Regions from separate parts of the Homo sapiens genome. Here region 2 is linked to region 1. The links come from fine-mapping of genetic effects on gene expression. A gene starts in region 1. The other region holds a variant in brackets. All regions are shown on one strand. Distances are between the middles of the regions. Region 1 holds the start of GRK2 (G protein-coupled receptor kinase 2). Region 2 overlaps ANKRD13D (ankyrin repeat domain 13D).

The links. PIP is the estimated chance that this variant, and not a neighbour inherited with it, causes the effect.
Region 2: its variant is the best candidate, but not a certain one, in a credible set for the expression of GRK2 in whole blood (TOPMed, PIP 0.57).

The regions. Positions count from the first base shown.
Region 1 is chr11:67,263,760-67,269,130 of GRCh38, reverse strand. GRK2 (G protein-coupled receptor kinase 2) reads right to left here and starts at 2,658. Exons shown (of 21, transcript NM_001619.5): 1 at 2,319-2,658. The coding sequence starts at 2,431. RefSeq lists enhancers at 330-389, 1,090-1,139 and silencers at 700-749, 2,670-2,869.
Region 2 is chr11:67,292,526-67,297,896 of GRCh38, reverse strand. All of the region lies in intron 6 of ANKRD13D (ankyrin repeat domain 13D), which reads right to left. Among named protein-coding and RNA genes, the nearest start is that of ANKRD13D, 5.9 kb to the right of the region's middle. The variant G/A (reference allele first, on the strand shown) is at 2,684.

The DNA of each region.
Region 1 (5,371 bases):
TGGCCTGCTCCCTAATGCCCCAGGCCTGGACCCCCATGTAGGGGTGGCCAGTAGCCCTTCCCAGGCCTTAGCGCACTGACATTCGGCGCTCGCACCTCCAGTCCGTTTCACAGATGTGGGCGATTTGCGGAAGGCCATGCTGCTGATGGTGACCCAATGTGAAAACCTGGGCTGCCTGGCTCGGCCTCCTGCTGTCCTCCTAGAATCCTATCCAACCTTGTTTCTGCTCAGGACTGCATGGGGGTGCCACACAGTCCTGGTATTTCTTGAGCAACTACTACATGCAAGGCATGGCCTTGCCAGCTTCACAGGTTGGTTGCTGGAAGAACTGAGATGACAGATATCAAAATAGGTAAGTCAGTAATAATTCCTATCATTATTGCTATCACCGCCATCACTACCATGGATGGGAAAGGGGACAGGAAAAGAAGACCATCTCGTTTCTCAGGGTTCTGACACCTGCAGAGCCAAGGCGGCGCCCCATCAGAAGCAATGCATTCTGGGGGGAGATTACCCGAACGCAGACAGTTCCAGAAAAGGCCCCGCCTCACAGTTGCAGAACTCCATCCTGCAGGAGGGTCTCGAGGCTGCAGCCACCAAGGAGAGCCGTTTTGAGCCCTAGAGGCTGACTCCCCCGTTTCCTCCCTCGTGGGTTTGTCATTTCTGAACTCATTTCTGTACTAACCGTCACTGCTCCCTGGACAGCCCCCAGCTGACAGTCAGTCTGGTTCCTGTTTTGAGAAATCTGATTGCAAATGTCTTAGAAAAAAAAAGGCCCTAACGGCCTTTTCAAAATGCAGACCAATTTTCCTCTCCCAGGCCTGACGTTCAGTCAATCCAAACACCCAGTGAGCAGGGCATGGCACAGGGGGGCGGTGAGGGCCATGGGCATGGGGCACCCCTGCAGCGTCAGCCAGAGCTTAGACGGCTGCTTCAAAGGCTGAGGGACACCGCAGAGTCACAGCTCTTATTTCACGCCATCCACATTTCACAGATGAGAAGACCGAGGCCCAGTGAGGGAAGAGACTTACCCAGAGTCACAAGATAAGACCACGGCAGTGTGGACAGGCCCCATCCCCAGCCCGCTGGGGCACCAGGAGGAGGCCAACTCTCAGGCATGCACAAGGAGTTGCCACACGACACAAAGAATCGTGGCGGGCACGTCTGCTCCCTGGCACAGGCCAGGGTAGCTGATGAAATGTAGAACCAGAAGTCTGAAGCCCTGATCTGTTGGCCAGGTGCCACCTGGGACTACCTGTGTGACTCGGGGCAGGCCACTCACCTCTGGAGCTTCAGTTTCCCCATCTGTTCCACAGGGACAAAACCACACCTGTCCTCGCCACCCCATGCGCTGCTGAGAGGCTCACACAGTGGAGAGATACTCTATCAGCCATAAAATGCTGGACAAACCGCAGCAATCGTCCACATCCTGTGTACTTTTGCACCTACATCCTGAACAGTCTAAACTTTGATACCAGGTGTGATGTCAGTTGTCTTACAGAGGCGGCAGCTAAGGTCCAGCCATTGCAGGTGTGCTGGGAGGGCCCCTGGTCAACAGCACCCACGGGGCACCATATGCAGGGCCTGCCAGAGGAGAAATGTAGGGGAGAGGGCACAGGGGATGTTTCCCCGACCTGAGCGCGGTCCGAGGGGGAGGGTGCCCGCAGCACCCTAGGTCCTGCTCACCACGCCGCCCTGAAAGCACTCTCGAGCCCAACTCCAGGACAGCGACCCCACCAGAGGGTGGGAGAAGAGTCCGGAAGACTGGCTGTCCCCCAACACCTCACACAAGTGTAGACTGGAGGAGAGACGGGTGGGGGTAGTGGAAACCCTAAAGCGAGTGCCGTGAGCAGGGACAGCAAAAGGGTGGGTGACATCGTCAGGCGAGGTAAATGGTGGCCAGCGGAGGGGAGGGGACCCCACAGGGACCAAGGGCTGCTCCGAGAAGGATGAAGGGGCGCGCCGGGCCCCCGTGGGAGAAGGCGGGAGCCAGGGGCTGACAGCGACTTCGGGGGGCCGGTGGAGCACGATAAGGAAGCAGCAGGGCGGCCAGGGGGACCCGACTGGGTCCGGGGACCGATGGGGCAGAGGAGCTCCGGAGTTGGGGCGCTCCGGGCTCAGGCGCCCAGGGTCTGGGGCTTAGGGTCTGGACCCGCAGGCGCCAAGGCCGGGCTGCTCCGGGCTGGGGGGCCGACAGGGGGTTGCGAGAGCCGGCCCCGGGGGTCCAGGTCGCGGGGTCGAGCATGGGGCCAGGGTCTCGGGGCCGCGGCCGGGGCGCCCGCGGGGTCGGGCCGGGGCCGCGGGCAGCTTCTCCTCACCTGGGCTCGGGCAGCAGGATCTTCTTGCTGGCGCGCGCGGCCGGCGTGGCCTTGCTCTTCTCCATGGCCATCAGGTAGCTCACGTCGGCCAGCACCGCCTCCAGGTCCGCCATCTTGGCGGCGGCGCTGCCTCCTCCCGCCGCCGCCGCCGCCGCCGCCGCTCCTGCTCGCTCGGCGCTCGGCCCGGCCCGGCCGCGGCTCGCTCGGCCTCGGGCGCCGACGCCTCCCGCCTGGCCCTGCTCGGCGCCCGCGGCTCCGCTCGCCGCCGCTCACAGGCGGCGCCGCCCCATGGCGCCGGCTCGGGCCCGGCCCCGGCTCGCGCTCCGCTCCCGCCGGGACTGCAGTCGGGGCGCCGCCGCCGCCGCCGCCCGCGCGCCCGCGCCCCGGAGCCGCCGCCGCCTCCGGCCCCGCCTGCCGCGCACAACGCCAGCGAGCCCGCGAGGGGCCGAGCCGGGCGGGCGACGGCGCCCCCTGGAGGCCGCGCGGAATCTGACCCCGAACCAGACCTGCGACCGCGGGCTCAGACCCTGGCCGTGACCTCGGCCCTCGATGCTGGACGGAGACCCGGGCCTGGAACACGACAGGGACCCGGCACGGAAGACGACCCGAGACCCATTCTCTGACCACAACCTCGGGTCACATCTCTGGATCCCAGGCTCCCCAGTCGGGCCGCAGCCCTGACACCAAACGTGATCACAGGGAACCTGGACGCTCACCAAGACACAGATTCAGACCTCTGAACACCATCCTGGGACTTTCATCTCAGACCCTGGCTATAACCCCGGACTCCCTGACCTTGGACGCAGTCCACGACCTGACACCAGACTCCAAACAGGACCCCAGACTCAAACCTTGGCCCACCACCTCAGACTCTAACCATGACCTCAGATCACAGCCCTGGGTCTCCAACGCCATACCCAGACTGCGACACTCACCTCAGACCCCCAACAGGTCCCCAGATCCAGATTTTGGACCATGACCTCGATCCCATCCTGGTTACTGACCCCAACCTTGATTCTGACCCTAGGCTACTACCATGACCCTGAACTCTAGACTTGGGGTCAGGACTCAGACCTAGATTGGACTGTCAACTCCAGATCACTGTCCTAGACTCAACACCCAGAACTGTGGACACGGACTCAGGACTAGGACGTCTAACCTGGGACCCACACTGGACCCAGAATCCTTAGTAGGTCACCCAGAACCTGGGACCTGACAACTGCAGCGCAGTTACAGGCTTCCCCCATCCCTGATCCCACCCCTCCTACTCTAGAACCAATCCTGGCCGCAGAAGGCCCACTCAGGATCAAGTACCCTGCACCCAACCCCACCCCCCAACCAGCTCATAGACCCAGGTCCCTGGCCAGCACTCTTGGCAGCTCCCTTCCCTGTACCCCATCCCATCCAGATGTTCCTTCAGGATGGTTCCACATGTAGTTACGGTAAAAACTCTCCCAGCCCGGAAGCGCACAGAGGTTTCAGTGCTGCCTGGCAGGGGAAACCCACCCTGCTGAGAGCCCACCCAGAGTGGGGAAAGCCAGGTGTCTCAAGGCAGCATTCCTATCTCAACATGCCCCTCTCTAGAGCCTCTCTTTGCTTTCAAAGTGACAGGACCCTCCTCCCAGCCCTGGGCACATAAAGCTCAAATCTCATTACCATGCTGTGGGCCAGCAGCCAGCATCCTTTTGCAAAGCAAGGCCCCCATCTCTGTGCACCTCTAGGCTACCATCTTGGATCAGCCCCAACAGAACCTGGAACCAGAGCATGTCAGAGCTTGTGAGGTTCTCCTCTCAGTGGGTGGTGAGTCACTCGCCACCCATATACCCATGTCAGAGCCTCAGTTTTCTTTTCCCCAACTGCTCCTTCATTCTCTCCCCTTCTCTAATCTAATTTGTCACCATAGTCTCCTGTCTGGCCTCCTGAGAATCTCCGTGAATCTGTCTACTTCTCAGGGTCCTCATGGCCAGCCACTGCCCTGATGCAGGCCCTGACCAGGGATGCTTTTCCCAAATCTAGATCTGATGGAGTCACTGCCTGCTTGGCACCCAGAAGCAGCTCTCCAGGCCTTCTGGGGCTACTGAGAGTGAGAGACCTAGAGGGGTCTCTAGGACTCACCACACTCTGCCCAAAGCAGATTAGGTGAACAAACTCCTTAATCTGCAAGTCAAGATCTTGGAGGACTTGGACCTTGAATGCTCCAGTTTGTTTCGCTACCATCCTCTGCACCTGGAGTTTCCCCACCAACTCACCCACCCATTCTCACTTCTGTGCCTCTGCTGTTTCCTGGGCCTGGAAGCCCTTCTGTGTACCTTCCTCCGTGGACAACTCCTACTCATCCGCTAAGACTCACCTCCTCCAGGTAGTCTTCCCTGACTCCCTGACCCCAACTATGTACATCTCCAATTCTACACTTACCACCTTCTAGGCCCTGTTTTCCATTTTCAGTTGCAAGATGCATTGTTGCAAGTTTCGACAGTGGGGAGTGAAGCCTCGTTACATGTCAGCATCAATTGGAAAATGCATCCTGATGTTGGAAATGCTGATATATATATTTAAAGAGGACATACTGTCCCCCACTGTCACTGGTGCCCCTAGTTCATCCTTTGCTCCCAGTGCCCACCACAGGACCCGACTCAAAGGCATCAGTGTTTGATGAGTGAATGAATGAGTGAATGAGCTCTTGGAACACATGGGTTTTGGGGTGGAACAAGGCCAGATGCCACAACATGAAGCCTCTAACCTCCTCTCCCCACAGCCCTGTCCTGACTCCTCTGGACTGCGAGCACAGCCACATGTCAGCCAGGGTTTTCGGGAATAGCCTCTATTTTAAAAATTCTACCTGATGAACTTGTTGGACCAGAGTCTGTGTGTGAGTTCTGAAATGCCAGCCATCCTGTTCCAAGAGGTGGCCTTACCTTCCCATCCCCACCTAAAAACTCAGTCCCTCCCACCCACAGCCCAATCCACACCCCCTGCCAGGCCTGAAGCTGGGGTCTTTTGAGGGGGGCTGGTCTCCCTTCATTGATTCCTGGGCCCAGGAAAAGTGACTTCAG
Region 2 (5,371 bases), 29 kb before region 1:
AATAAATCAAAAGAGAAATCAGAAAATACTCTGAGATAAACAGGAATAAAGACACAACATATCAAAACTTATGGCCGGGCACGGTGGCTCACGCCTGTAATCCCAGCACTTTGGGAGGCCGAGGCAGGCAGATCACAAGGTCAGGAGATGGAGACCATCCTGGCTAACACAGTGAAACCCCATCTCCACTAAAAATACAAAAAATTAGCCGGGCGTGGTGGCAGGCGCCTATAGTCCCAGCTACTCGGGAGGCTGAGCCAGGAGAATGGCGTGAACCCGGGAGGCGGAGCTTGCAGTAAGCCGAGATCGTGCCACTGCACTCCAGCCTGGGCGACAGAGCAAGACTCCCTCTCAGAAAAAAAAAAAAAAACCAAAAAACTTATGAGACACAGGTAAAGGCCAGGCCAGGCCCGGTGGCTCACGCCTGTAATCCCAGCACTTTGGGAGGCTGAGACAGGCAGATTGCTTGAGCACAGGAGTTCGAGACCAGCCTGTGCAACATGGTGAAACCCCATCTCTACTAAAAACAGAAAAAATTAGCTGGCGCCTGTGTTCCCAGCTACTCAGGAGGCTGAGGTGGGAGGATCACTTGAGCCTGGGAGGCGGAGGTTGCAGTGAGCTATCACACCACTGCACTCCAGCCTGGGCGATGGAGTGAGACCCCATGTCAAAAAAAGAAAAGACATGCCTAGAAGTATAAATGTAATATGTGTGAATGCCTATATTAAGAAAGAAGATCTCAAATCAATAACCTTAACCTAACCTTCCATGTTAAGACAATGGAAAAAGAGCAAACTAAACCAGAAAGAACAGAAAGAAATAATAAATATTACAGTAAAGGTTAATGAAATAGAGAATAGAAAAATAATAGAGAAAATTAATGAAACCAAAAACTGGCTCTTCGAAAACATCAACAAAATTGACAAACCTTTAGCTAGGTTGACCACGGTGGGCAAAAAAAGAGAGAGAAGACTTGGCTGGGGGCGGTGGTTCACACCTGTAATGTCAGTGCTTTGGGAGGCCAAGGCAGGAGGATTGTTTGAGGCCAGGAGTTCAAAAGCAGCCTGGATGACATAGTGAGACCACATCTCTACAAAAAAAGAAAATTAGCTGGGCTTGGTGGTGCATGCCTGCAGTCCCAGCTACTTGGGAGGTTGAAGAATCACCTAAGCCCAGGAGTTCAAGGCTGCAGTGAGCTCTTATCATGCCACTGCACTTCAGCCTGGGTGACAGAGTAAGACTCTGTCTCAAAAACAAAACAAAACAAAACAAAACAAAACAAAACAAAAACTTCAAATTACTCACCAGAATCAGAAATGAAAGAGGGGAGCAACAGAAATAAAAAGCATTATAAAAGGATACAATGATAGCTGTACACCAACAAATTTTATAATTTAGATGAAATGGACAAATTCCTAGTGAGACACAAACTACCAAAACTAATTTGAGAATAAATAGATAATCTGAATAGATGGATAACAAGTCAAGAGACTGATTGGTAAATATAACAACAAAAAACTATACACACATACACACACACACACACACACACACACACTCAGGCCCAAATGGCTTCACCACTGAATCCTACCAATCTTTTGAAGACAAATTAATACCAATTATTTGCAAACTATTAAAAAAAATAGACAAAGAGGTGACATTTTCCACTTCAGTTATGAGGCATCACCCAGATACCAAAACCAGACATATATCACAAGAAAACTACAGACCAATATCACTTATGAATATGGACACAAAATCCTCAACAAAATACGAACCAACCAAATCTAGCAACATATGAAAAGAATTATACACCACAACCAAGTGGAACTTATCACAGGAATGCAAGGTTGGTTCAATATCCATAGGTCAATTGATGTATCAATAGAATTTTTTAAAAAATCACATGATCATATCAATAAACACAGAAAAAGCATTTCACAAAATCCAACATCCTTTCATGATAAAAACACTCTAACAATGAGGAATGGAAAGGAATTACCTTAACCTGATGAAGGGTATCTACCAAAAACTCACAACTAATATCATACTTAATGGTAAGACTGAATGTTTTTCCCCTAAGATGAAGAACAAGACAAGAATACAAGGATGTCTGCTCTAACCACTTTTCTTTTCTTTTTTATTTATTTATTTACTGTTTTAGATGGAGTCTTGCTCTGTCACCCAGGCTGGAGTGCAGTGGCACAATCTGGACTCACTGCAACCTCTGCCTCCTGTGTTCAAGCAATTCTTGTGCCTCAGTCTCCCAAGCAGCTGGGACTACAGGTGCCCACCACCATGCCTGGCTAATTTTTTTTTTGTTTTTGTATTTTTAGTAGAGATGATGTTTCACCATGTTGGCCAGCTTAGTCTCAAACTCCTGACCTCAAGTGATCTGGCTGCCTCAGCCTCCCAAAGTTCTGGGATTACAGGCGTGAACCACTATGCCCAGCCTGCTCTAACCACCCCCCTTTTTTTTTGAGATGGAGTCTTGGTCTGTCGCCCAGGCTGGAGTGAAGTGGCGTGATTTTGGCTCACTGCAAGCTCTGCCTCCCGGGTTCACACCATTCTCCTGCCTCAGCCTCCTGAGTAGCTGGGATTACAGGCGCCCGCCACCAAGCCTGGCTAATTGTTTGTATTTTTAGTACAGATGGGGTTTCACCATGTTAGCCAGGATGGTCTC[G/A]ATCTCCTGACCTCGTGATCCACCCACCTCGGCCTCCCAAAGTGCTGGGATTACAGGCGTGAGCCACCGCATCCAGCCTCTAACAACCTTTAATCAATATTCTACTGGAAGTTCTAGTCAGAGCAATTAAGCAAGAAAAAGAAACAAAAGGCACCTAAATTGGAAAGGAAGAAATACAACTAAATCTATTTACAGATAACATAATCTTATATGTTAAAAAAAATACTGAGGAAAGGAATCCACTAAAAATCTACTTGAATGAATGAGTTTAGCAATGTTGCAGGATACATGGTCAACATACAGAAATCAATTGTAATTTTATACATTTGCAATACACAATCAAAAAATAAAATTAAGAAAAACATTTGATTCATAATTGTATCAAAAAGAATAAAACCCTTAGTGGCCAGGCACGGTGGCTCACACCTGTAATCCCAGCAAGGTCAGGAGTTGGAGACCAGCCTGGTCCGACATGGTGAAATCCTGTCTCTCTAAAAATGCAAAAATTAGCAAGGAGTGGTGGTGGGCACCTGTAATCCCAGCTACTTGGGAGGCTGAGGCAGGAGAACTGCTTGAACCCAGGAGGTGGAGGTTGCAGTGAGCCTAGATTGTGCCACTGCACTCCAGCCTGGGCAATAGAGTGAGACTCCATCTCAAAAAAAAAAACAAAAAAACAAAACAAAACAAAAAACAGAATAAAACACTTAGGAATAAATGTAACAAAAGTGCAAAGCTTACACTCTGAAAACTATAAAATAATGTTGAAATAAATTAAAGAAGATCCAAATAAATGGAAAAACATCCCATGTTCACGGATTAGAAGACTTAACATTGTTAACATGGTACTATTCCCCAAACTGCTTTATAGATTCAGTGCAATTCCTATCAGAATCCCACCTGACTGTAGAAATTGACAAGCTGAATCTAGAATTCATATATTCTGCCTACACTGGGTTGTGAGAAAAAAGAAAATAGAATTCATATAAAATGCGAGGGTCCCAAAATACTGAAATAACCCTGAAAAAGAAAAACAAAGTAGGAAGACTCACACTTTCCAATTTCAAAACTTATTGCAAAGCAACAGTGATTAAGACAGTATAATATTGGCATAAAGACAGACATGTAGACCAATGGAACTAATGTGGGAGTCAGAAAGTAACCAATTTATCTATGGTCAACTGATTTTCGACAAGGGTGACAAGACCATTCAGTGGGAAAAACATAGTCTTTTCAACAAAGGGGGCTAGGACAACTGGATAGTCACATGCAAAAGAACCTTCCACTATACACAAAAATTAACTTAAAATGGCTCAAAGACCTAAGTGTAACAGCTAAAATTATAAAACTCCTATGACTCAATAATCAAAAGATGACCCAATTTTTTAAATGGGTGAAGGGATAGGTGTGGTGGCTCATGCCTGTAATCCCAGCACTGTGGGAGGCCCAGGTAGGCAGGTCGCTTCAGCCTAAGAGTTTAAGACCAGTCTGTAGACTCTATCTCTACAAATAACTAAACAAAACAATTAAATGATATAATAAAATAATTACAAATAATTTAAAAATTAGCTGGGCATGGCAGCATGCACCTGTAGTCCCAGCTACTTAGATCACTTGAGCCTGGGAGGTGGAGGGTGCAATGAGCCATGATCATGTCACTGCACTCCATCCTGGGTGAAAGGCCAGACCCCATCTCAAAATAAATAAGTTAATTAAGTTAAATAAAAAATGAGTAAAGGATCTGAATAGACATTTCTGCAAAGAAGATATACAATTGACCAATAAGCACATGAAAAGATGCTCAACATCATTAGTCATCAAAGAAAGGCAAATCAAAATCACAGTGAGCTATCACTTCTCACCCACTAGGCTGGCTAGATTCCAAAAACAAATGAGTGAATAATGACGTGTTGATGAGGATGTGGAGAAACTGGAACCCTCACATGCTGCTGGTGGGAATGTAAACCAGTACAGCTCGTTTGGTAAACAGTCAATTAAACAATGAGTTATCAGTAACCTAGCAATTCCACTCTTAGGTATATACCCAAGAGAAATGAAAACATATGAAAGAGAAATTAAAACATACGTCTACACAAAAACTTGCACATGAATACTTAGAGTGGCATTATTCATAAGCCAAATAATGCAAATAACCCAAATGTCTATCGATGGGTTAATGAATAAACAAGATATGGTATATTCATACAATGGCCACAAAAAGGAAAGAAATAGTTACGTGCTACAACTTGGATGAACCTTGAATATATTATACTAAGTGAAAGAAGCCAGACACAAAAGGCAACATATTATAAAATTCCATTCATATGAGAACTCAGAGCAGGGAATTCTACAGACACAGAAAGTAGATTAGTGGTTGCTTAGGACTGGGAGAGGGGATAAGAAGTTTGGCGAAGAGTTAGCTAAAGGGTGGGGGGTTTCTTCCTGAGGTGATAAAAATGTTCTAAAATTGACTGTGGTGATGTACAAATCTCTGAATAAATATACTAAAAGTCATTGAACTGTATGCTTTAAATGGGTGATCTTATATGGTATATGAGATTATATCTCAATAAAGGTTTTTTGTTTTTTTTTTTAAGTGTTTCCACTGACTGTTAAGGCAAGAGGGGGCATGTGTTGTCAGAGAAACTCTTGCTGGAAGGGTCAGGTTCCTAGGCTACCCACAAAGGATTC